Linked DNA regions of Homo sapiens: all the other regions are reported to be linked to region 1. The links are microRNA targets in miRTarBase. Many come from high-throughput screens and were not tested one by one. Region 1 holds a microRNA gene; each other region holds the end of a gene's coding sequence.

Region 1 (4,088 bases):
TCTTCCTTTCCCATGGCTTTTAGTACCGCTTAAGAGCTGATGATCCCCAAGTTTGTTTTTTCCAGTTCTATCCAGTGTTATACTGAAAAACTTCAGATACTCAGTGTTGAAGCTATCATCTTTCTATTCTTGATCTTCCAAATAAGATTGACTACACCAATTCTGCCACATGTTTGGACTCAAAACTCTGACTTCCCCACTATTTGCATAGTCAAACCTTTGCCAAGTCTTATTGTTTCTTCTTTTGAAGTAATTTTTCCTGTTTATTCTTCACTGTGCATTCCCCCGAGCAGGGCTTTATTGACATTCATGTGGGCCATTGTAATGGTCTCTCAACAAATTTCTCAGTCTTTTTTTTTGAACAGACTTCTTCACTCCTGTTCAAATGATCCATTGAAAACACAAAATTCTGCTCCCTCTGTTTCTCAAAAACCATAAATGGCTTCACATTGTCTATAAAAAAGCCTCAAAACCTTAGTTTGGCAGCCTTGTCTAGTAAAGTAGAACTATTCACTACTTCCAAAAGATGCATTCCCAAAGCCTTCTTATCTCTGCATCTTTGCCACCCTGTTTTCTTTTTCTAAAATACCCTTCTCCTCTCTGTGTTGTGCAGAGATACGGGAGAGGGCCTAGTTTAATAGCCATTAAACATCAGAAAATCTTACTAGCTTTCAGCTATGAATAATCTGCACCTCTTATAATTGTATTGCTAACTCAATGTATTTTATTTCTCAGACTGTAAGCTTCTTGAGGGTAGGAACAATGCATTAGCCTCCTGGATATCCCTGTTACGAAGTCATGGCTGGGCCTCATTCAATATGCAGGAAATAGATGGATGAAGCTTCCAGGAAAGGCACATAAACTTATACTTACTTGCAGCTTATATCCTAGGATTCTAGTCCATGATTGAGTTATTTGTCTTCAACTTCAAAAATGTAACACTCTGGAAAACCTCTGGGTTCCGTGGTTTGGTTAGATTAGGAATTTCCAGCATCATACATGATCTAGGGGACCAGAGGCAAGAGGCAGAGCACATCAGTGTACCACTCTGAGGGCATCAAGAAAGACGGTCCCTGGAGTGATGTGCCCAGGGGCCTTAGGAGAGGAACCGGCTAGGGGCTGGCCCTCACTTACCTCTCTCTTCTCACCCTTGTTCCCAGAAAAAGGCATTGCTGGCTCTGAAGAAGCAAAGTAGCAGCAGCACAACCAGCCAAGGTGGTGTCAAACGCTGTGAGTGACAGGGGAAATGGGGATGGACTGGAAGTGGGCAGCATGGAGCTGACCTTCATCATGGCTTGGCCAACATAATGCCTCTTCCCCTTGTCTCTCCAGCACTATCAGAGCAGCCTGTCATGGACACAGCCACAGCAACAGAGCAGGCAAAGCAGCTGGTGAAGTCAGGAGCCATCAGTGCCATCAAGGCTGAGACCAAGAACTCAGGCTTCAAGCGTTCTCGAACCCTTGAGGGGAAGTTAAAGGTGAGCACAAGCAGAAAGATTGTTTAAAGGGCATCCCTCCAAGTTGGAATGTAGATGGGTTTGGGGAAAAATATGCATACTCAAGCACTGGCAAATTGCTGTACCATTCTGAGTTTCACCTCTCATGTATAAAATGAAAAAACTAGACGACTCCTGAATTCTCCATTTTACAAATTCTGTGGTTCTAATCCACCTTGGATTGGAGCTCTTGGAATATGTTGCCCTAAGGGATGGAAAGGGCTGAAAATGTTATCAGGTTCAAGAGAGGTTCAAATAAACTGAATACATAATATATCGAGTCACTTATAAAAAATACCAGCTGGGCGTGGTGGCTCATGCCTGTAATCCCAGCACTTTGGGAGGCTGAGGTGGGCAGATCACTTGAGATTAGGAGTTTAAGACCAACCTGGCCAACATGGTAAAACCCCGTCTCTACTAAAAATACAAAAATCAGCAGGGTGTGAGGCCGGGCGCGGTGGCTCACACCTGTAATCCCAGCACTTTGGGAGGCCGAGGCAGGCGGATCACGAGGTCAGGAGATCGAGACCATCCTGGCTAACAAGGTGAAACCCCATCTCTACTAAAAATACAAAAATTAGCCGGGCGTGGTGGCGGGCGCCTGTAGTCCCAGCTACTTGGGAGGCTGAGGCAGGAGAATTGCTTGAACCCAGGAGGCGGAGCTTGCAGTGAGTCGAGATTGTGCCACTGCACTCCAGCCTGGGTGACAGCGAGACTCCGTCTCAAAAAAAAAAAAAATTAGCAGAATGTGGTGGTGCACACTTATAGTCCCAGTTACTGAGGAGGCTGAGGCCAGAGAATCACTTGAACCCAGGAGGCAGAGGTTGCAGTGAGTGGAGATCACACCACTGCACTCCAGCCTGGACGACAGAGCAAGATTCTGTCTCAAAAACAAAACAAAACAAGCCACAATGGCAGGTGCGGCAATGGCTCATTCCTGGTTAATTTCAGCACTTTAGGAGGCCGAGGTAGGAGGATTGCTTGAGCCCAGGAGTTTGAGACCAGCCCTGGCAACATAGTGAAACCCTATCTCTACAAAAAAAAAAAAAAATACAGAAATTAGCCAAGCATGGTAGAGCACATCTCTAGTCCCAGCTACTAGGGAGGCTGAGGTAGGAGGATTGCTTGAGCATGGGAGGTCAAGGCTGCAGCAAGCTACGATTGCTCTATTGCACTCCAGCCTGGACAACAGAGCAGGACCGTGTCTCAAAAAAAAAAAAAAAAAATAAGTAAAACCACGTCAAATAAGAAATGTATGTAGAATTAAAAGGGAAGAAAAGATCAGAGGAAACCTAGAAGAGGGTGAGGGAAGAGGAACACCTCTGGTCCATGGTTGGGCAACCTCCTGCTCCACACTGAGGTAGGTCTCTCACCACTCCAGGACCCCGAGAAGGGACCAGTCCCCACTTTCCAGCCGTTCCAGAGGAGCATATCTGCTGATGATGACCTGCAAGAGGTAAAGGCTCCTAATTTCTGTCCCTGAGGGGTTGGGGATGGAGGAATATGAGAGACAAATATATTTTGGACCACATGTCAGCAACTGGAAATCATCTTAACTGTTCTTGGTCTCTTTTACAGTCATCCAGACGTCCCCAGAGGAAATCTCTGTATGAGAGGTTAGAGAGTAGAGATAAGGCTGGGCCCATTTGGTGGAGTTGATTGCCTGAGTCCTTGGGAGGTTTGGGCTGTAGGAGCTGGGCTATAGAGGGAATATTGAGTCTCCACAGGGTCTGAGGGGAGAAGGTAAAACCCCCCTTTGATCTTCAGTCTGCATCTCCCCAGCTTTGTGTCTTCTAGTGATCGACTTCGAGAACTAGGACCAGATGGAGAAGAGGCAGAGGGCCCAGGGGCTGGTGATGGTCCCCCTCGAAGCTTTGACTGGGGCTATGAAGAACGCAGTGGTGCCCACTCCTCAGCCTCCCCTCCCCGAAGCCGCAGCCGGGACCGCAGCCATGAGAGGAACCGGGACAGAGACCGAGATCGGGAGCGGGATCGAGACCGGGATCGAGACAGAGACAGAGAGCGGGACAGGGATCGGGATCGGGATCGAGATCGAGACCGGGAACGGGACAGGGATCGGGAGCGGGATCGAGACCGAGACCGAGAGGGTCCTTTCCGCAGTGAGTGATTTTGGCTGGAGGTCAAGGTGACCTTAACTGAGGTTTATGTGGGTCCTACTAAGTGAAATGTGGCATGGTCTATGTCTTGTGACTATGATTTGTGCTCCCAAAGGGTCGGATTCATTCCCTGAACGGCGAGCCCCTAGGAAAGGGAATACTCTCTATGTATATGGAGAAGACATGACACCCACCCTTCTCCGTGGGGCCTTCTCTCCTTTTGGAAACATCATTGACCTCTCCATGGACCCACCCAGAAAGTAAGGATGACAACAGGGCATGATGAGAAGTCCTGGGAGAATCCTGGGGTGTGAGACCTGAGGGAAGAAGCTGCCCTCCCTGCAGCCGCCTATTATCACTGGGTTTGGTTGGGTCCAGAAGAGCCCCTTGGCTCTCCACTGACCGTGTTTTCTCTTATCCCAGCTGTGCCTTCGTCACCTATGAAAAGATGGAGTCAGCAGATCAGGCCGTTGCT
Region 2 (4,088 bases), not on the chromosome of region 1:
ACTGTCTCAGGATGGGGGCAGGGGTCACCCCAAGTCGTGCACTGAGGGTCACCTCATCCCACACTGTGCTCTAACCAACGGGGTTTCTGTGGCCAGCCCCAGAGGCCTGTGGTCTGCGCTGCACTCTGCCCTGCTGCATCTGTCCACGAGGGGAACAGGATCAGGCCCATGCTGTGTGCGTGCAGGAGCTAGGCAGACCCCACAGAAAGGTGTCGGGGCCTGGGGAAGCTGGACCAAGCAGGGGCTCCAGACCAAAGGAATGGGGAAGGGTGGACTTCTGGGGACAGGTCTGGGGGAAATAAGGACAGATGTCTAGACCTAGGGGGAAAGGGAGCAGAGACACAGAGCCACCAGGGTCAGAGGGAAGTCCGAGCAGCAGTGGGGAAGAGGGACAGCAGGGAGCCAGGTGGGCGGGGACCCCGGCGCTGGGTGCAAAGCCACAAGTTGTTGCTGAATGCTGGCCTTGGTGTCAGCTTCCTCAGAGAAGCAGCTGCTCTGAGCTGCCCCTCCCCACCCCTGCTCCAGGATGGGGGCGTCTCTTGGTTACCACCAGGGCAGCTGCTGGAGGAGCCGAGGGAGGGTACCAGGGGTGCAGGAAGGGGAGGACAGGCAGGCAGAAAGGCTGGATGAGAGTCAGGGTGAAAGGTCAGTGAGGGGAAGGGGCCTGGTGCCCTGGGCTCAAGTCCGTCCTCTGTCTAGGCCTGTTTCCTGAAATGAGCAGAGGCATGTGGACTTCCTAAGTGTGGCTTCTTAAGGCTGCTTTCCATTCTGGGGCTCAAACTCCGAAGCAGAGGACAGAATAGGAGACAGCAGAGCAAAGAAAAGGGAGGCCCCCACTTTTGGGGAGGGGGATGGCAGCAGGGGTGGATGGAACTTGAGGGTTCAGCCTCCCAGATGCATCCCTTCTGCCTGGACTTGGGTGAGGCGCGGCCTCCTGGGTGAGTTGAGGACAAGGTGCTCCTTCCTGCCTCCTTTTCACAGTTCCAACAAACCCCTCCCCTGAAGCAGAATCCTGCTGTGACCTGAGGGGAGTGGGGGACAGTGGGCTGAATTGGGGGTGCAGGAGAGCATTAGCAGCCTCTCTTCCAAGAGACACAGCCCCCGGCACCTCCACCCGGCCCAGCACCCACCGTCTCCGCTGGACTCAGGCTCACACCCGCCAAGGCTTTTGGCGCTGGCCGGCGTCTCCCCACCGGCACCTGGAGGAGTGACAGGGGCTACTGTCTTACAGCAGTGGGAATGCCCAAACATGGAGAGGGGCAGACGGAGAGATGGGCAGCTTCGAGGGAGTCGAGAGCCTGAGACAGAGGGCAGGGGGCAGGCTTGGCAGCACATTCCTGCCAACAGGCCTTTAAGGTTATTCATTTCTACCTCCCCCGGCTTCCCAGAGGGGGAAACAAGCCAGGGAGGGAAAGCCACCCGCCAGGAGCTGCAGAAGGGCTGCTCTAGGGAAGGCTGTGGGTGTGAACTGCCATGGAGGGAGGCTGAGCCAGAGGCGCCCTCGGGGATCCCTTCCCACAGGGGTCTCCACGCCCAGGGATGGAAAGTGATCCTCCTGTCACACCTGAGGGCTGGAGCTAAAAGCATGGGACACAGAGACACCCTGGCCAGTCCCTGATGAGTGCAGAACTTCGGTTTAACCATCTGTAAAGAAAGGCTTAGAGGGAAAGTCTCTCAGGCCCCAACAGCCAAGACATGCTGGTCTGAGGAGTGGGTGGGTGTCCTCGTCCCCCTCCCCTGCCCATCTTTGGAAGGCAGGTCCCTGAAGGCTGGCAGGGCTGGGGGAGGGGGAGCCTCAGAGCACCAGTTGCTGCTGGAAGATTAGGAGGGGATCAGGCCCTGCTTACCTCGGGGCACCACAGCCTTCACTGGCCATCTCACTAAGAACCCAGCACCCGGCTCTCCAAAGCTTCCCCCACTTTCAAGGCCGGTCCTATCCCCAGTCTCCTGAGGCCAAGGTTTGGGGAGCCCCAGAAATTAGAGCAAGCAGGAGAGCCAGCAGGCTTCCCTCGGCTAGCCCCCCGCCTGGGTGGCCTGGAAGCCCAGCTGTCTCCTGTCCATCTCCCTACAGGACACAAGGCCCAGAATAGCAAGGTCATGAGCGTGGGTAGGGCCTCCTGGAGGTGGGGGCTGAAGCTGAGGGGCATGAGGGTGTGGGCTCCTTGCTGCCTGGGCGGGGAGTGAGGCAGGATGCTGAAAGGCGGAGCTGGACAGTGGGGAAGGGAGAAGGCCGAGCTCAGCGGGTGGGATTCTTCAGCCCCAGGCCCCTCCTTGTTGGCACCCACTACCCCCAGAGCTGGGAAGCCCAGGGGTGCCCTCTGTTGGAGGGCACAGCCACAGATCAGGAAGACTGATTCCAAGAGCAGAGCCTGTGTTTTACGGGGTGGAGGGGTGTGCCACAATGGGGGTGGTGTTATAAACTCAAATGCCCACAGGGCCAGGCCCTCCCAGGGAGCAAAGTGAGCTGGTGGGGATGGGGCAGATGTGGAAGTGGACCCACATCACTGGATCTTCTGATTTTTAAGAGAAGCCAGTGATTTTTTTTTTTTTTTTTTTTTTTTTAGACAGAGTCTCGCTCTGTTGCCCAGGTTGGAGTGCAATGGTGCGATCTTGGCTCACAGCAACCTCCACCTCCTGGGCTCAAGCAATTCTCCTACCTTAGCCTCCTGAGTAGCTGGTATTACAGGCGCGCACCACCACACCCGGCTAATTTTTTGTATTTTTAGTAGAGACGGGGTTTCTCCACATTGGTCAGCCTGGTCTCAAACTCCTGACCTCAGGTGATCCACCCACGTCGGCCTCCCAAAGTGCTGGGATTACAGGCGTGAGCCACCACACCTGGCCTGTGATCTGAATTTTTAATGTGAAACTCAAATGGACACCATGTCCAGGCCAAGCAAACCATGTCAGCAGCTCTGACTCAAGATGAAACTTCACATGTCACAGATGAGGATGCTCAGGCCCGGCGTGGCTACACCTTGCCCAGGCCAGTGAGTGGCAAGGCCAGGACAGAAGCTAGTGCCCTCTGCCATCCCTCCAGCCTGGCTTTGAGAAGGGGGCCATTGGGCCCCTCTGCGGCTACCCTGTGACTGCCACGTTCAATCTCTTCCAGCACAGCCACCGTGCCTCCCATCTCTCACTGCCAGCTCTCTCTAGGGTACAAAGCCATAACTCAGGAAGGGCCGCTGGAGATCACCATGCCTGCCATTCACAGCACTGTCCCATGACAAAAACTCGCAGGAGACCCCAAGAGCATCATTTAGTGCTCCACGAACAAGGCTGTCAGACACAGGGATGGCTCCGAAAGCACAGCACTGCAGAATGATGGGGACTGGCCTGGGCCAGCCCTCTGGCCTGTGGGCACTGAGTGGGCTGCCTTCCCAACCCAACTGTCCCCAGTCCCCACAGCAAACAATGGCCATAGCCATCACGATAGAACCGAGATAAACCTTTTTATTTATTTATGCTTCTCCATTTTGTTTAAAACAACAACAACAACCACCTTAATGTAACTGACAGCCCTTCCCCCTCACCCTGCCTCGGGCTGGGGGTAGTTAATGGGGAAATGGCCCCCAGGGTGGGGCTGACCAGAAGAGCCCCTCAAGGAGCTCATGGAGCCCAAATCCCCTGCCCTGGGGAGGGGACCTGTAGTGTGTGACGGGAGCCTCTCCCGAGCCTCTGCTTGTACCATCAAAGATGCCCTTGGCCAACAAGGGTCAGGAAGCATGGGGGAGGGATTTCGGCCTCCTCTGTCCCTACCCAGCCCAATCTCACGAGCAGGGCTGGGGGGTTTAAAAAGGGTGGAGCGGGTGGGGTTGGCTCACACGAAGGAGTACTGGTTGTTAATGGCCCTGGGGTGGCCCCCTTCCTCTCCATCACCCCCTAGTGGTGACTGCTGCAGCTGCACCATTGGGGGCACCCCCGCGTCCCCACCAGACCCAGCGCCCTGGGCCTCTGAGCCTGGGGCTATGGCCTCTTCCAATTCAACCACGGGGACCAGCTCAACCACGGGGACCAGCTCTTCCGGGACCCCTCCACCGCCCGCTTTCTCTTTCTCTTGCCTCTCTTTGGCTGCTGCGGCTGCTGCT
Region 3 (4,088 bases), not on the chromosome of region 1:
AGATCCTTTCCTATTTTCACTTGATGACTACACATTTTCTCCCTACTACTACTGCTACTACAGGTTTCACTTAGAAGCTTTGCTGCCCGGCAGTTACATTTCTTTATCCATTATTGTTTCCCTGAAGAGAAATAGCAGTATCATTCATCTTCTAAAATGGTGCATTACCACAGCATCTAAGTAAGACTCAAGTATAGGGCATTTACCATTGGCTGTTCTGGGAGTATTATCTAAGAATTGGATTTCAATGTCTGTTATTTATTTTTAAAAATATTTCTATGAATTTATGATAATATGTTGGCATAGGATGATTACAATTGATAAAAGGTAAATTTAACAATTTCATGCTTGTTGCAAATAAGTCAAAAAGCCAAAGTCCCCATGTTTGTTGGTAATTAAACAAAATGAGTAGCATGAAACATAAAAAATATGAATCATGCTGTGTTTACAGACCACATGCCAGAAAAATATCTTCTGGGAAATATACCCCCCAAATAAGACATAATTGAATTTCTTTTTTTTAAAAAAGATATACTTTATGTGACCTACTCATATCTGTGTTATTACCCATCCAGGGAGCCTTGAGAACGGCAATTTCTCCTTCTGGGATTCAGTTTCCTTCTGTAAAATATGGAGGCTGAAGAAGTTCATCTCTAAAAGTTCCCTTACAGCTCTGCAGTTGGCTCTAATTTTATGACATGTGCCCTGGAAAGCTCCTTGGTGACAAACATGGGTTCAAATCCTCAGTTCATCACTTACTAGCTTTTTAAGCTTCTAAAGGTTATATTTTATTGAGTGCTTATATTTTAATCTGTGAAATTGGATAAAAATACCACTCTAATAGAATTGTTTGAGGATCAAATGGGAGAATAGGAGCTGCAAAGCCATTAGCGTAAGAATAGTTGGTTAATAGACATCCAATGCCTGTTACTAAACCCAAGGCCCTGGTTTCCTACCCTTTCCTTCTCTCCTTAAAAATTCAAATCCATATGTATTCTTGGCAAATAAAGGAAACTAAAATAAAATTTGAAAGATGCCATGAATAAGCAAAATGTATAGGATGTGGACATTTTAGAAAATTAATTTTTATCTCCCTAGCTTGGGAATGCCTTTGGGTTTGAATATAGCAGACAAAGCAGTAGTAAGAAGTCAAACTAAATCCAAAGCTCCATATGACTTTGCAATTTAGCACTATTTATATATTTAAAGACAAGCATGGCACCACATGCATTAATAACAGTATATCACATAGGAATATAAACCCTCCACATAGACTCAGCACTGGTTCTAAACTTTTCAAAATCACATAAAATCAGTTTGGAATTTCACAACCTTAAGAAAGAAGAGAAGTTTAAATTCACAAGAAACCTATTAAAATATTAAATGAGGATACTGAAAACTGACTGTAGGGGTTTGATGGTTTAAACAGTTTACCAGGGATTGCCTAAAATAACCCTAGGAACCTCTTTTCTCACTTGTAAGTCTATTAATAGGTGATGTGTTTGAATTTTACTGGGCATTTTGGCCCCTGATGGATTAGACAGAAGGAAGCATTCTAAAATTTAATCTTTCCTCGTTCTGCTCTCGGAAAGGCTCACATTATTAATTTTTTTTCTAGTAATATCTGATTGAGTACTAAATGCAACCATGCCCTTATTCCAGTCAGTTGAAATGCCCTGTAGAAGGAGAAGTGAGCAGACTTACCTTTTATCCTGTATGTAATTACATAGAAGGGCTGAGTTTCTGGCACAACCACACAAATTACCTATTGAAATGCTGCTCTACCTACTTCACGTGGCAAGGTATCTAAGCCCTCAAGGACAGCTAAGTGGGCTCGTTATTGTAAAGGGACTCCCATTGTCTGCTATTTGTCCAGTAATTCATGAACCATTGGCATATTACTGGTTCCTTATTTATTACCACTGACAAATGATTTCATAATACTGACCAGAGGGATTACACAGCTCACAAAAACTTTCCATATAAGAAGCACGATGTTAAAACACAGCAGAGGCCATCAAACACAGTATTAATGAGAATTTTGTTAGCTTCTAATGATAATCATTATTGTATCAGAATGCAATTCACACTAATTATTAGTAAAAGTTTACAAACATTAAAAAGTGCATAATAACATTTGGATCTGAGAGGGCTGAAAAAAGACATGAAAACACAACACCAGGGCTTTACTTTTGTGATTGGTGTCCACATGATTGCAAGGAGATTACTTTCTCCACCTGATTCAGCTTAGTGAAGATAAGTTGTCCTCCAAATTTAAATAGTATCATACAGCATTGTGAGAAATTTGATTCCATAGAACAAAATATTTCCAGTCCTTAGTATGATCTTGGCTTTTCTTTTCTACCTTTCCAATTGTCCAAAATTCTCATAAATTAAAATATATATATATATATATATTATGTGGGAGAAGTTCTCCACTTGAGAATAAAACAAATTTGACAGATTGAATTCCAGTCTGTGCAGACACCAAACAGACTGAATTCAGGTGATATTCACATTAATGGATATTTTCAAATGTCTCTATAATAAAGCAATGGAGTCTTGATGAATCTGTTAGACTTAATCAACTCATCAACATACAATGAGCAAGGGGAAAGACTGTGTTTTAAAAAAGGGTGTTCTATCCTGTGTACACCACCACAGTATGGAAAACTAAAATGAAAAGACAGCCCTTTTAAAAATGAGTGGTATAAAAATTCACAGTAATGTACATCATTTTGTTTTTCATAAGCAATCAGAGAAGGGGGCAGTGCTGAGCATATATATTGTACAATACAAAACAGTGTAAATAACACAGCAGTAACACACAGATACGTAATGCTAAAAACAGTGCTTTCTGGATCTTTCTTTTACTGGGTGAACACTTGAGCCAGAGATATTTAAACTCTGGGGTTCAATCAACCCTTCGCAATTAGACACAATTAAATCCTCTGACATTGTGAGGGGCCAGATGCTACAGGAAGAATCATCATCTAGGTCGGAGCTACTCTCTATAAGCATTTCGTCATATGATCAAGTGAAAGGATCCATACAAAAATGACGCCCAAACACAAGCCACATGATTTCAACCATTGCTAATGACAGAGGTAGGGAAAAGTCTGCCTGCAGCCACAGCCTCTGCCCTCATTTTTAACATGATAATGAGCAGGTTCCTGCAATGCAGCACAGCCATTTTCTTTTTCCTCTTTTCACTCATGGAAACAAATGCATTCCAGATACTCCTGGAGATTTGAGACATTTTCAGGTGTGGTCGAGGGTCAAAGTGGGGTGTTAGCTTTCAGATTTTGCTGCTTCTCCCTGGGCTTCCCCACTTTGTTCTGTAGAACTTCGTTGTGCATCTTCTTCACCTTCTGCAAAAGAAAAACGAAAACAGAATAAAGGCAAAATAAAAATGATTGCTTTTATTTACCAACTGTCAATATGTCATATTGGTAACTTCAGAAATACTAAATAGGCCTGAAACCTTGAAGGAACAAGTATATTTTCTTGGTAGTCAGTTCACCACTAAGAAAACAGCTTAAGTTTTCAAGGACTGATTAATTCTGTGAACTTGGGACAGCACGGCTCAAAAACAAAATAATATTCAAATTTTCAGAGTAGTTAGTGATCAGCCAAGCTTTGGATAAATAGCTCAGAAATCTCAAGGCCAGGTCATGTCACTTAGGTATAGTTTCACAGGTTGCAGAAATCAGAAATGTCTTTAAGTAGAAATCAGAAGTGGGAGCATGTTTACCTTTTTATGCCTGATTGTCTTATTTGAAGAAATATTTTAAAACTGCATTTTCTCCTTTTTATAGCACTTGATGATAACCCAGCTAATTTCTCAGAGGTTCTATTAGTTCAAAGTAAAAGCAATAGTTGAAAATGAAAGGACACTATGTCAGCTGGCCAGTCCCTTGTCAAATAGTTACAATGGCCTCTGGTCTGCCCTTAGAGAACATGTGCACAATTCCAATAAAACCACCCTCATAACTGCACCCTCAGTAGCAATCTTAGCCAGTGGTATGGCAAACATTTCAATGCTTTCACTCCATATTAGGTCACTTTATATAAGTGCAAGCTGTTGG
Region 4 (4,088 bases), not on the chromosome of region 1:
TCGCCCACCTCCAGCTGCTTTCGAGAGGCAGTGGCTCACCAGCCTCCAAAGGAGCAATCCAGGGTGGGTGGGGGTACTCCTGGCAGGGTCAGGCCAGCTCTTCATGTCCAGGGATGTACATGGGTAGCTCGTTGGCCCCCACCGAGGGGTCAGAGCCTGGCCCCTGCTTACAGAGGACACTACAGCCATCCTGTTGAGGGGACTGTTTCCCAAGCTCAGTCCTCAGGGTTGGGTCACCACGGACATCATGTTACTGGGAAACACAAAGCTTGCGGTCACACTCTGCTCGGGGCCCTTAACCCTGGGACAGAAGGGAGTGATTCCGAGAGTTGTGTTGAGGGAGAATTGTGCAGGACCCAAATGATGGCCAAACAGAGGGAAATATAACCCATTTGTCTTCTGGTGGATCTCAAAAGCCATCTATTCAAGGTAAGCACAGATGGAACGACACCCATAGTTACAGCCAGGATCAGGAGAGCACGTGGGAAGAGGGGGGCATTTCAGGGCTGCTCAAACCAAAATCCTGTGTGATAAAAACACCTGTGCTCCCGTCCCTGCCCAGGCCATTAAAAACAACGCTGGCTTCCGCGTGTGGATCCTCTTCTTCCTCGTGATGTGCTCCTTCTCCTTGCTCTTCCTCGACTGGTACGACAGCTAGCCAGGGCCACGGGGGCCCAGCACGAGAGTCCTCATGGGCACTCACAGACTGCGTGCTTTCATGTACTTCCAGTGCTGGAGCATGGTATGACCAGATTTTATCACAGTGCCATTTGAAGGGAAAGGAGTTCAGACAGACAGACGTATTCCCCAAAAAGGGATACCCCAGGCCGATGGTGTTCAGCCATTTAGCAGCTGAAAAAGGAAACAGTGCACACCAATGGGAGGCAGCCTGCGTAGCCCTCATCAGGCAAGACAGACTGAATGCAGGAGTGGGTGATTAGCTGCTCCTTGAACTTGAGGCTGCCTTGGCAGCAGGGGCACAGCAGGCCTCAAGAGCCCCTAATTGTCTCAGGGTTCAAAGGAAGACACTGACCTTTCCCATCCCGGTAGCTTCAGGGAAGATCATAGTTAATAACGTCTCTCAACAAATGATTACTTCTTTGTTTCCTTGTGGCTTCTTGTCTGTCTGAGTCAACGAATACACAGACTTACTGGATTATAGAAGAGAAAATTCACATCTGCCTTGTTAATCTAATAAATATAATTACAGCCCCTTAATGTGTTGTCAATGAGTCTAAGTTGACAAATTCAGTGGCAGCCCAGCCACCTCCTATCAATCAATCAGGGAAGAAATGCAGGGGAGACTGGGGCCCTCAGTGAGGGGCTGCCTGGCATTACTCCTCCAAAGACTGCTGCCCCCAGAACAGGCAGGGGGTGTGGGAGGGCCAGTTTCCCGCCACTGGGTCCAAGGAGCCTTTGTTCAAAGGAAGAAGTGGGCCACGGAAGAACGGGCCTGCTTCTCTCGTGCCTGTGCTTCTGACCTCCAGGAACTGTAAACAGGAACACCTATGTGTAACTGAAGGCATGAGACATCTGTACAGGAAGCATCCCAGCGCCCACATGGGCATGAGACAGTCTGCACTGCGCCTGGTGAAATGCGTGTGTGTACAGACAGTCCACTGGGCAGCACAGGTATCCTCATGTTCTTTATTTGCACAGAGTGAAATGTCAGAAGTTACATGTAAATGAATTCACAGTCAATAAAGTCCACGTCTACCTGGAAATACAGGCTCGGCCTCTGCACTGTGCGCACACGGGCTTCACTTGTGTCTATTCAGATGCGCAGGGAAGCTTTGGCACTGATTTATTGCTCTTGAGTCATTTTCCACAGCTTAACACCACCCTTCTCAGCACACGCCTCTGATGCACACCGCTGCGCCAAGGTCACGGTCTGTGTCTCCAGACACCCTTGATGAGAAAATACATTTTCTGTCTTAGAAGCACATTTCAGGAAACAAGAGTGGCGCTGACCACGGTCACCATGCCTGTTCACAACACATCTCACACTATTTGTCGTTTATTTCTGATCTAAAAAACTGAAACTTTTGACACGTACACCAGAAACAACACATTCAATAACATAGAAGAAATGTCTGCGAATGTCTTTTCTATTTGTTTTACACACTTAGTTCATCTAACTGGCAGTTTTGTAAACATAAACTTTAATATCAAGATTCAAACTGGAACAATTTTCTTACAAAGATTGTGAGTTGAAATTTGTCATTTTGTTTGCACGGTGCCACACCAGTCCCCCACCCCCACCCCACAGCCTTTCCTGCCTGTTTCCCACATCAAGGGATATCAGTTTCATAGAATAAAAATTAAAGTAGCTCAAGCTTACCAGAAATTACATTTCCACTTTTCCCACCCAGCTCATTTCTTTAAAAACTAATGGGGCTATTGGTGCAAATTTATTCATAATAGAAGTGAACCAGAGGGCCAGTGGGGGCTCTTTCCTATCAGCACATCACAGAGCAGACAGACTACCTGCAGGGAGAGTTCTGCACCTCACGGGCCCAGGGCCGTCTCTTCCCAGCCCTCTCCCTCACATGCTCTGCCAGTCTACACACACTGGAGCAAACCCCAGCTGTCTCCACCCAGATGGGTGGTGCCCCTCCCTCCTTACCAAGATGCCAGAGTCAGAGGGGAGGGAGTAGTCAATCCACACCGAGCCTGCCACATTGCAGGGCCGTCCCACCCCGACTCAGGAGTCAGCACAGGGAGGGGTGGGGGGGTCTTTTTCCTCGTTCTCTATGCCACTTACTTACTACAGTGCACCTTGGCAGCAGTCAGCACTGTTACCCGCTGATGGCCGAGGAAGAAATGCGAAGTAGGCTTGCTCTTAGCACAGCGAGAGATCACTCTAGATATGGCTATGGAGGAAGGTTTGCAGACAGCAGGGTCGGTTCAGAAAATCAATTCCACAAAATGCATTTATCTGAGATCCAAACCCTTCGCATATCCAGTGTAAATTTATTTTTTTACAGCATCCAATAAATCCCAGTAAAGGAGCTAAATGAAGATCTTAACATGAAAAGTGGTGTCAGAGCTCTTTAGGCAATGCTGAAATGCACTTGATTTTATGCCCGTGGGTGGTCGGCAGCAAGTTTTATTTGCAAAGCAGCATTAGCAAACAGAAGCAATTGCACCGTAAATGAGTAACCTCTAAAGTATCAGTAATTATATTTAATGAAATGTCCCTCAAAGTCCCTTTGTTATTTGCAAGTGACACATTGTAAGGAACTTGCCCATCCCGCTAAGCTGACTTCTCAGCCGCTTCAGTCTCCTGCTCGGACAGCTTCTCTTCTGACAGAACTGACATCCAGGGCGATACGGAGCGCGTGATGCTCTGCTTGGCCAGGTTGTAGTGGTTTATGACTGTGTAAAATTTCTCCCGGGCACTGGAGTCTTGCTCCGCGTAGTAGCTCTCCAAGCCTTCTGGGATGCACTGGGTGTTCTGAAAGACAAGAGGCCACTGAGAGCACGCGTCGGTGCAAGAGGGGGTGCCAGTGTGTCTCCAGTTGGCAGCCAACAGTTACTGAGCACCTTCCCTGAGCTTGGAGGAATAGATACAGTGATGAGCAAAAACGGGCATGGATCTTGCCCTGAGAGAGCACAGCACAGGGGAAGCCTGGCCTTGATTATTCTTAATAGACTGGCTGGTGAGTGCCATGGCAGATGGGCACTTGGGCTCCAAGGGTGCCAGTGTAATGGGACAGCAGGCCTTACTTCACTGAAGATCTTGCACTAGTTGTCATTTTTAATCAATTGGAAAACAACAACTTATGAAATATCCCAAAACAACCAATTCAAATGAGGACGGAAGGGAAGTGAGAAGAGCTTCCCTTGAGCTAGGTTCTCAGCAGACCTTAGCTAGGTGAGATGAGGGAGGGGCAGCACTCAAGGCAAAGGAAACCAGAGCAGAGAGGGGCCTTGGGGCGGGAGTCAGAAGAGGCACACAGAGCCACTAGGTGGTCATGACTAGGGGCTGGGAAGATGGCGAGGGGGTAGGGAGGGGCCGTGGGTTGGGGGAGTGCGAGACAGCACTTGGGTCTTACAGAGGTTTATCAGGAAGCGGATTCTGGCAG
Region 5 (4,088 bases), not on the chromosome of region 1:
CCTGTTAAATACTGGATCTTGTGTTATGCTCTAGGGAAAGTTCCTGGGGCTGACCCATGAGCATCATCAGTATGTTCCCAAATATATGGAGAGCATGCCCGAGAGGGGGTGTGGAGACATGGCCATCCCCCGCCCTCACCACATGTGTGGGACTACCTGCTCACTAGTGAAGAGAAGCACAGAAAACCAGGGTCAGGGCTGAAACAAGGCAAACACCAGAGCTTTGCTTTTCTCCCCTCCAGGTTTTGTATCTTTTAAAGGAAATGTGCTGTTTTGCTTCTCCTAAACATGCTTGATGTTTAATCAGTTCTTGCTATCAGGACTTGATATCCGTTCTGTCGAGTGCTGATGCTTGACACTCAATTTTGAGCTTTGCCTCTCACAAAAGCTCTTGCATAGGTTTCTCTGTCCTCCACACTTTCCCTTACTTTCAGTTACAGGCAGTGAGAGGTTCCAATTAGATCCTAATAGTCCTAGGGAGGCCAGATTGTGAGCTGCTGGCAGGGAGGTACTTTCTGCCTCCTTTGACTGAAACAGGATTCAATCTGTAGTTTTAAAAGAAACGTAAAAAGCATTCCTTCCCTTTTAGATTGGTCTATTCCTCAGGAAGTCACATCTCCCATTATTTTTGTTTTGCCCCAATTTTTTTTTTATTTTTAGAGACAGGGTCTCACTATGTCACCCAGGCTGGTGGGCAGTGGCACGATCATAGCTCACTGCAGCCTCAAACTCCTGGGCTCAAGCAATCCTCCCACCTCAGCCTCCCAAATAGTCGGGACTACAGGTGTGCACCAATGCACCCAGTTCAATTTCTTAATATTTGTTTTCTATCAGCTTGTAATCTCTTCTTTGTGGTCTGTGTTATCAGTGATCAGTGAAGGTGTCGAAGCTCCTTTAACTGGTGGCAGTCAGTTACCTTTGCTTGCCCTACTGGCAGTTTAGAAGACACATCCAATAACTTCTTCACAACTCCAAATCTTGGGTATCAGGTAATGTTTCCCAAAAGCATAAGGTCCAGAAATGATAACAATTTTTTTCTCTAAAAATAGAAAACATTACATGGACACATTGCATGATGGCAAAAGAAAACAGGCCAGGTGTAGTGGCTTATACCTGTAACTGCAACACTTTGGGAGGCTGAGGCTGGAGGATCTCTTGAGCCCAGGAGTTCAAGACCAGCCTGGGCAACATAGTGAGACCGTTTCTACAAAAAACTAAACAATTAGCTGAGCATGGTGGTGTGCGCCTGTGGTCCCAGCTACTGGGGGCTGTAGTGAAGAGCGGGTGGCAGGTGGGAGGATGACTTGAGCCCGGGTGGCTGAGGCTGCAGTGAGCTATGATCATGCCACTGCATTCCAGCCTGGGTGATAATAGCAAGACCCTGTCTCAAATACATAATAAATGAAAAGAAAACAATGCTTGAGCTTACAGATACTTCAGTGATCCTTGTTTTAGTTCTACTTATGCCATCAAAATGGTGGCATATTCAACCTAAGTAATTGACTTTTGGGTTTAGGAACAAGATATTCCAACATCTGCAAAGAAGAAAAGGATCACAAACAGCAGAGAGCACAAACTGCAGTAGTGGGGACTACCAAGGAGCTGGTCTCGAAAGCAACCCACATGAAGCCACCGCGGACCCCGCCAGGGGAAGCTGAACACAGAAAGCGGAGTCAGAGCCTTGCAATATGTCAGTGGAACAAGAATTCCCGTTAGACTAAGAGCCCTGAGGATCTAGGTAAAGCAGAATGGCTGGAAAGGGGCTTCCTAAGGACTCCTCACATGGGTCTTAGACCTTTTGGGTCACATCCCCTTTGAGAACAGTAAAACCTATGACCCCTTGTCCTAGAAAAATGCACATACCCTCAATTTTGCATGTAATTTCAGAAGGCTTATGGAACCCATGAATTTAATCACAGGCTTCTTGGGGGTGCAAGGATCCCCGTTTAAATGACCCTCTGTTCTATGGTATTGGGTAGGGGTCTGCTTTATTAGGCCCTCTGAATATGGAGTCTATTCCTCACTAAGAATGATAATATAGCCCTACTTAAACTTTATTTCCATTATATAAAATACTGGCACCTTTCCCAAGGAAAGGTTTGTGTTCAAAATGAGAGAATCACCAGGCAACGAAACTGGGAGATGTCACAGTTCTGCTGTGGCAGCTTCAAGACATTTGGGACACAGCAATGACTTTTTTTTCTGAGACAGGATCTCACTCTGTCACTCAGGCTGGAATGCAGTGGCATAATCATGGCTCACTACAGCCTTGAACTCCTGGGCTCAAGTGAGCCGCCCACCTGAGCCTCCTGAGTAGCTAGGACCTGAGTAGCTAGGCACATGCCACCACACCTGACTAAATTTTTTACTTTTTGTAGAGATAGGGTCTCACTGTGTTGACCAGGCTGGTCTTGATTACTAGGCTCAAGTGATCTTCCTGCCTTGGTTTCCCAAAATGTTGGGATTACAGGTATGAGCCACCGCACTCGGCCACAATCAATGACTTTTTAAAATCAGTGACTTTTGATTCTTAAAATTGCAGTCAGCATAACAATGTATGGAATTTTTCCCCCTTTTATAGGTAAAGAATAAACATGGTAAATATTCGAGGAGAGTTATACAGAGTGGCTGACAAGGCCTTCTTCAACGGAAGGAGGCAGAGGACAGGCCACAGGTAACAGTCAAATAACCACCAGTATCTCCACCCCACGAAGACCTCCCTGCAGATAAGCAGCAGGAAGGCACCTGTTGTGAGGGCTATAGGAATGTGGGATCCTGCCCTGGGGCTCCCTGCCAGGGCCCTGGTGAAACTGCTTTAAGATGCCTCTTCCGTGGAAGAGGGGGTCAGCCTGCTTTGGGCAAATGTGTCCACAGCCACTCTGCCACCTTCCCATAAAGCCTAGTTGTACATGAGTGACATTTTGTTTCACCTCTTAATAAAAATGAATTCTCTTCATTTCCAAATCTCTTTATTATCATAATTAACCTTTACTTGGAAAGCAAGCAGTAAAACCTGTTCAGACAGCATCATTATATTACTTTCAGGCAAACAAGCGTGGAGGACCTCTACACCCTCAAGTTAAAAAAGGCACTGAGGCCGGGCGCGGTGGCTCACGCCTGTAATCCCAACACTTTGGGAGGCCAAGGTGGGTGGATCACGAGGTCAAGAGATCGAGACCATCCTGGCCAACATGGTGAAACCCCGTCTCTACTAAAAATACAAAAAAAATAGCCGGGCATGGTGGCGGGTGCCTGTAGTGCCAGCTACTCGGGAGGCTGAGGCAGGAGAATGGTGTGAACCCGGGAGGCGGAACTTGCAGTGAGCCGAGATCACGCCACTGCACTCCAGCCTGGGCAACAGAGTGAGACTGTCTCAAAAAAAAACCAACCAAACAAACAAAAAAGCACTGAAAGAGACAGACTCCAGTTCCCGGAAGGCTGACCCAGTCAGCACTAAAAACAGGATTAATGTATAGCTATTAAGAGAATCATACAGTGGCTTTATTCTTACTACTTAAAAAAAGGTGATGTGATGGCAGTGATGGTCAACATCACACAGGGAAGACCAGGTCCACGCTTTGTCCAGAATCAACTGCTACCACATGAGTCTTCTTGGTTAAGTCATTTGAGCCCACAGTGACAGAATAGGTCCCTGGATATACTTCTATGTAGAGGTCCTTAGAGATGTTCTCAGCCTAGAAGGAAAAGAGGATATTAGCAGTTTAGAGATTTTATACCCCAGTGCCACCATGGCCCCCCAGCAGGCTACCTGTCCTTGCAGAGGTGTGATGGAATGAAGCGCTAATGTGGGAGACAGAGGTCCTGCTTTCAAGGCTCAGCCTGCTCACGTACAACACTGTCATTTTGGTAGGTCTCAGCCTTTCCTTATTTCTAGCACTGTGATAATACCTCACAAATAAGCATGTGAAAACACTCTGTAAATGCTAAAGTGTTATATGAACATGAAGGATTATAAAAAGAACACTCTACTTGGAGTTAGGCAGAAGGAAAGGCTAGAGGCCACTGTTTTGGGGATCAGAAGTAGACAGTGGCACTTAGCACAGATGAGCAGTAATGACAAGGTACTC
Region 6 (4,088 bases), not on the chromosome of region 1:
GAAACGGACTGGCTGTGTGTTCACAGAAATACAAACACCACGCGGTATGTGCTAGTAGGGCTGCTCTGAAGACAATTACAAAGAATTGGAATCACAAAATCAAGTGGTTATCTTATGAAGTTCTAGAAAAATAGATTTTTTTTATATTCAAATGCAAGTTTAAATATTTCCCCTTCAGCAGTCGTTCTAGCAAAACCAATTTGGCAGCACAAAAGGAAAAAAAAAGGAAAGAAAAAAAGAAAAAAAAACGAAGAAAGAAACAAACATAATAAAAATACACATCAGCATCAAAGGTCAACACAAGGTCAAAGGTGAGAGTTCAAGCATCAGAGAAGCTGAAGAGACAGGGATTTGGACGATGTACTTGACGCCACATCGACATGCTTTAGGCACAACGATGAACAAACGGCAGGAATCTAGAAAAAAAAACAAACCAGAAAGAGGGAGACCCACTGAGTTACACAGAGCAATACATCCAAACAAAGAGAGAGAGAACAGGAACACTCACTGTGTGTACAGCCCTGAAATGAGGTGGGCGGGCAGGGGTTGGGTAATGACAGGGAACTTTTGCACATGCTAACAATGGACACAGGGAAAAGTCAAAAAGGACATGGAGGACACCAAGAACACATCTAATTGCCAGAGACAGAAGGGAACCTAAGGCTTGGATTTTCCATGAAGCACCCAACTCCTAAGAGAAGGTCTCCAGGGGAGCAGAGCCTCAGCCTCTCTCCCCACTCCCTGGTCACAACCCAAGGGGAAGCAGAAGATGCTGGCTGGGGTGGGGAAAATTTTTCAGGGAAGAGGACCAGAATTTCTGCTCAATCTTATGGGGATGGCCCTTTGTTCCCAGAAATCCAAGCTCTTAGCTTCCATCCAGGCCCTGGCCACTCAAGGGGAACCCAGGAGACAGTGGTCTGGCTGCATTCAAGGCAAATCAATTTCATGATGTAACCCAAGTAAGAAACAAAACTACAGCAGAAAACACATTGTAAGTGAAACCTTCACACAACAGAAAAGGATTGCTTAAGACTTGACAGCGAGTCTCCACTCTGAGCTGAGCCCTTTCACACGTGAGACTTGTAGGGGAGCAGCTTCTTCACAAAACCATCTTTGGCCTGGGGAAAGAACTGTGCTCAAGGGCAGTGCTACTGCTGTGCTAACTCACTGGGCAGGGGGAGGAGAGAACAGAGAAGTGCATGGTCTCACCAGCTGGCTGCTCAAGCAGCCCAGGACCCTGCTGGGGCGAGCATTCCTTTTAGAAAAGAAAACCCATCAGCAGGTATGAAGCCCTCAGGGTCTGGTATCAAAGGTGGGTGGATTGCACCTTGGCCTCTTATGTCATTAGGAAAGGGGTTTCATAAGGTCCCAGAGCCCAGGACAAATCCATGGACAAATAATGGTGAGATGGGGGAAGGCGGAGAGAAGAAGGGGATGTGGGAAGGGAGTGGCGTTCTGGCTAAGGAGGAAGACAGAACAGAAGGCTAGGGAGCACAGCACCGGCAGCACCCTATGGAGCACAGCTCTCTCCTCTGCCAATTCACAGCATTAACACCTTCCCCTTGGGCAGGTTAGCTGGGCTGCAAACGGGCCACAGAAAGTCAGTAGTTTCAATCATACACAGCACCCTGTGTGTATAACAATCACATTCTGGATTCTACAAAATCCTGGCCTTTTCCAGAGATATAATTTAGGTAATAAATATTCTCCACCCCGGAGCTGTATAAAACTTCTATAAAAATAGAAACGACATTCTTGGTTCCAGCCGGTTGGGATTCAGAACAGCGCCTCCCCAACCTAGCATTTTTTTCTTTTTTTTTTTTGTTTTCTTTTTTCTTTTTTATTTTTATTTTTTGCATTTATTTAAAAAATCCCATCATGACCCTGGAAGCCTTTAGAACAGTTTTATCCTTTGAAACACAGGACACATTTCTCCCAGTGCGCAGAATTTCAAGTTTACGTGGTTCAGCTTAAGAAGTGTATGTTTCACGTTCCTTAGAGGACAACAGACCCAAGTTATCACTATGAGAAAGGAACAGCTGTCCCAGCTTCAATGGGATAATCCAACACCACCAGCTACCTGTACAACAGTAAGATGGTCAATCCCTGTCTGTTACCCACAGGGACAGCATGACAAGGAGAGAGCCCCCATCTGACTTAATAGCAAACCAACCCCTTTATTCTTATCTCTGCTGCTAGGGGTCAAGACTGGTATTTGTTGAGGTTTCAGATTCCAGAGACCCAGGGATCCCATCCCTGGCTGTGGCTACAGTCACATCTTAACAGGGCCACCTCTGCCCAGGTGTACATTCCCAACAGCATGTCCTTCCTGGTTCTCTACCCCCACAGCACTTCTTAGAGCAGAGGCAGAGCCCAGAAGCTGTGTGGGTCACAGGCAAGAGCTGAAGTAAGACCTGCAAGAGGCGGCAGGGAGCTAACTGTAGCACGAGGACAAAAATGAACACGGTAATACTGAGGTAAATGAACACTCAATTCATGTGGAGGCTGTAAACGTCCTGATGTCACCTCTGCCTCAAGAGCAGAAAATGTGACTGGAGTGGTTACAGGAGGGGCCTGCCAGACCCCTGTGGGAATACTACATCTGGGACACCTCAATCAAGGAGGCAAGGGAGAATTTCTGGCCACTGGCAAATGAAGCATACTGGCTTGCAGGGACCTTCTGATTCAAGTACACCAAGAAATAAGCTCCTCCTCCCCCAACTAGATGGTATTGATCACTCTGCCCACAAATGGTACCCCCTTCAGCAAGAACTGCAAGCCCTTCTTGGATTTGCCTTCATGAGAAAATGGTGGCTTGGGATGGAGGTGACATTCCTTGCTGTGGTGAACTGCAAAGAAGGAAACCAGGCAATGTATTCCATAGAGGCCTTTAAAGAGACCCGTTGGAAATGGGCCATGGTCTAATTTGGTGTTGAAATAAACTAACCTCTTTGGCTGTTTCTCCCAAACTGCCACCAGCCAGGCAAGGCCAATCCAATACTGACTGCTGGCTGGGGGAGCTCGTAATGGGTGATGCCGCCCTGCTTTTTGCATATGTCAGGCTAACAGGTGCTTTATTTCCAGAGAATTGTTAATGCCCTTTTTTGAAAAGAGCAGCAGAAATTCCGGACAAGAATCTGAAAAATAGGTGTCAAAAACTATTTCCCAGAAGGTAGCTGTACAGGAGTTTGAGTCTCCAGCTGCCAGGGCATTAGGTGTCTAGTCACTCCACTCTTCCCCAAAGCCGCTCTGCTCCCCACAGCTCCCAGGTGTCAGTTCTCATTCTACCCACCCTCACACTAAGAGAGGTTCTGGGGGTCACTTTTTTGTTCCACTCAGTCCTCTCTCTTGGGGTGGTTTGGGGCAAATCCTGATCATCGTCTGTGTTAAATGTTTCCCTGTCCCCCTTCCCCAGGGTGGTTTGGTGTTGGTCCTTCTCAACACACACTGGTTACAAACACAGCAAACTTTAAATAAAGGAGAAACAAAAACAAAAACAAAAAAAACCTCAGGATATGGCACCTAAACTCCAAAGTAAAACACTGGAAACCAAAGCACAAACTTGTCCTCTGTACGAAGCGAAACTCCCACAGAAGGCAGTAGCCGAGTCTTCAGGGCAAGCTGTGCCTGCGAGAGTGGCAGGGATCAGGGTCCAGGGCTGTCAACACACAGCCTCAGGGCTTCGAATCATTAAGGGTGCTCCTCCCCCACTTACCAGAAGACCCTCTCACTCCAGTCTCAGAGGGGAGCACGCTCAGTAGGGCTTGCTGTCATTCTTCGAACGTTTGAGCTGCACTTTAAGCCGCTTCATGCCAATCTGAAAGCCGTTCATGGACTGGATGGCAGCTTGGGCCGAAACAGGATTGTCGTAACTTACAAAACCTGTGTGTCCAAGCAGAAACCTAGGTGAGGGACATAATGAGGCAAGGAGATTCTCAGTCCTCCTTATGCAAGATACCTTATGTGCTTCATCTCAAATCCCAATTTTATTCAGCAGGGACAAGAAATCTGGACATTATGTCATACGAAATAAATTAGGTTCTTAATAGTACCACTTAACAGCTACATGGTAATTTAAAGGTTTTTTT

Evidence for each region. Region 1 holds the annotated microRNA hsa-miR-1236-3p (CCUCUUCCCCUUGUCUCUCCAG, at 1,311-1,332, shown strand). A microRNA usually pairs through its seed, bases 2 to 8, with sites in the 3' UTR of a target mRNA and lowers its output. Matches are read on the target gene's strand: a 7mer-m8 pairs with bases 2 to 8, a 7mer-A1 pairs with bases 2 to 7 and ends in A, and an 8mer does both.
Region 2: the mRNA of SH2B1 is a reported target of hsa-miR-1236-3p. The part of its 3' UTR that is shown has no 7-base or 8-base seed match.
Region 3: the mRNA of PKIA is a reported target of hsa-miR-1236-3p. The part of its 3' UTR that is shown has no 7-base or 8-base seed match.
Region 4: the mRNA of NSG1 is a reported target of hsa-miR-1236-3p. Seed matches in the 3' UTR shown: 8mer at 2,526-2,533.
Region 5: miRTarBase lists AKIP1 as a target of hsa-miR-1236-3p. The part of its 3' UTR that is shown has no 7-base or 8-base seed match.
Region 6: miRTarBase lists CELF1 as a target of hsa-miR-1236-3p. Seed matches in the 3' UTR shown: 7mer-m8 at 3,232-3,238.

Annotation. Positions count from the first base shown.
Region 1 is chr6:31,954,083-31,958,170 of GRCh38, reverse strand. It overlaps MIR1236 (microRNA 1236), which reads left to right and starts at 1,231; the gene lies at 1,231-1,332. NELFE (negative elongation factor complex member E) reads left to right here. Exons shown (of 11, transcript NM_002904.6): 3 at 1,161-1,230; 4 at 1,333-1,478; 5 at 2,878-2,952; 6 at 3,075-3,112; 7 at 3,279-3,616; 8 at 3,729-3,873; 9 at 4,037-4,088.
Region 2 is chr16:28,873,553-28,877,640 of GRCh38, reverse strand. SH2B1 (SH2B adaptor protein 1) reads right to left here. Exons shown (of 8, transcript NM_001387430.1): 8 at 3,436-4,088. The coding sequence ends at 3,821. Among named protein-coding and RNA genes, the nearest start is that of ATP2A1, 2.9 kb to the left of the region's middle. RefSeq lists enhancers at 13-102, 113-182, 2,687-3,187, 3,188-3,688.
Region 3 is chr8:78,601,025-78,605,112 of GRCh38, reverse strand. It overlaps PKIA (cAMP-dependent protein kinase inhibitor alpha), which reads right to left. Exons shown (of 4, transcript NM_006823.4): 4 at 1-3,371. The coding sequence ends at 3,292. All of the region lies in intron 2 of LOC105375911 (a long non-coding RNA gene), which reads left to right. Among named protein-coding and RNA genes, the nearest start is that of PKIA-AS1, 45 kb to the right of the region's middle.
Region 4 is chr4:4,416,604-4,420,691 of GRCh38, reverse strand. It overlaps NSG1 (neuronal vesicle trafficking associated 1), which reads right to left. Exons shown (of 5, transcript NM_014392.5): 5 at 1,634-3,457. The coding sequence ends at 3,257. STX18 (syntaxin 18) reads left to right here. Exons shown (of 11, transcript NM_016930.4): 11 at 563-1,724. The coding sequence ends at 658. Among named protein-coding and RNA genes, the nearest start is that of NSG1, 32 kb to the right of the region's middle.
Region 5 is chr11:8,918,944-8,923,031 of GRCh38, reverse strand. AKIP1 (A-kinase interacting protein 1) reads right to left here. Exons shown (of 6, transcript NM_020642.4): 6 at 2,953-3,695. The coding sequence ends at 3,552. C11orf16 (chromosome 11 open reading frame 16) reads left to right here. Exons shown (of 7, transcript NM_020643.3): 6 at 1,517-1,738; 7 at 2,582-2,956. The coding sequence ends at 1,716. Among named protein-coding and RNA genes, the nearest start is that of AKIP1, 9.8 kb to the right of the region's middle.
Region 6 is chr11:47,468,476-47,472,563 of GRCh38, forward strand. It overlaps CELF1 (CUGBP Elav-like family member 1), which reads right to left. Exons shown (of 15, transcript NM_001376376.1): 15 at 1-3,882. The coding sequence ends at 3,755. Among named protein-coding and RNA genes, the nearest start is that of RAPSN, 21 kb to the left of the region's middle.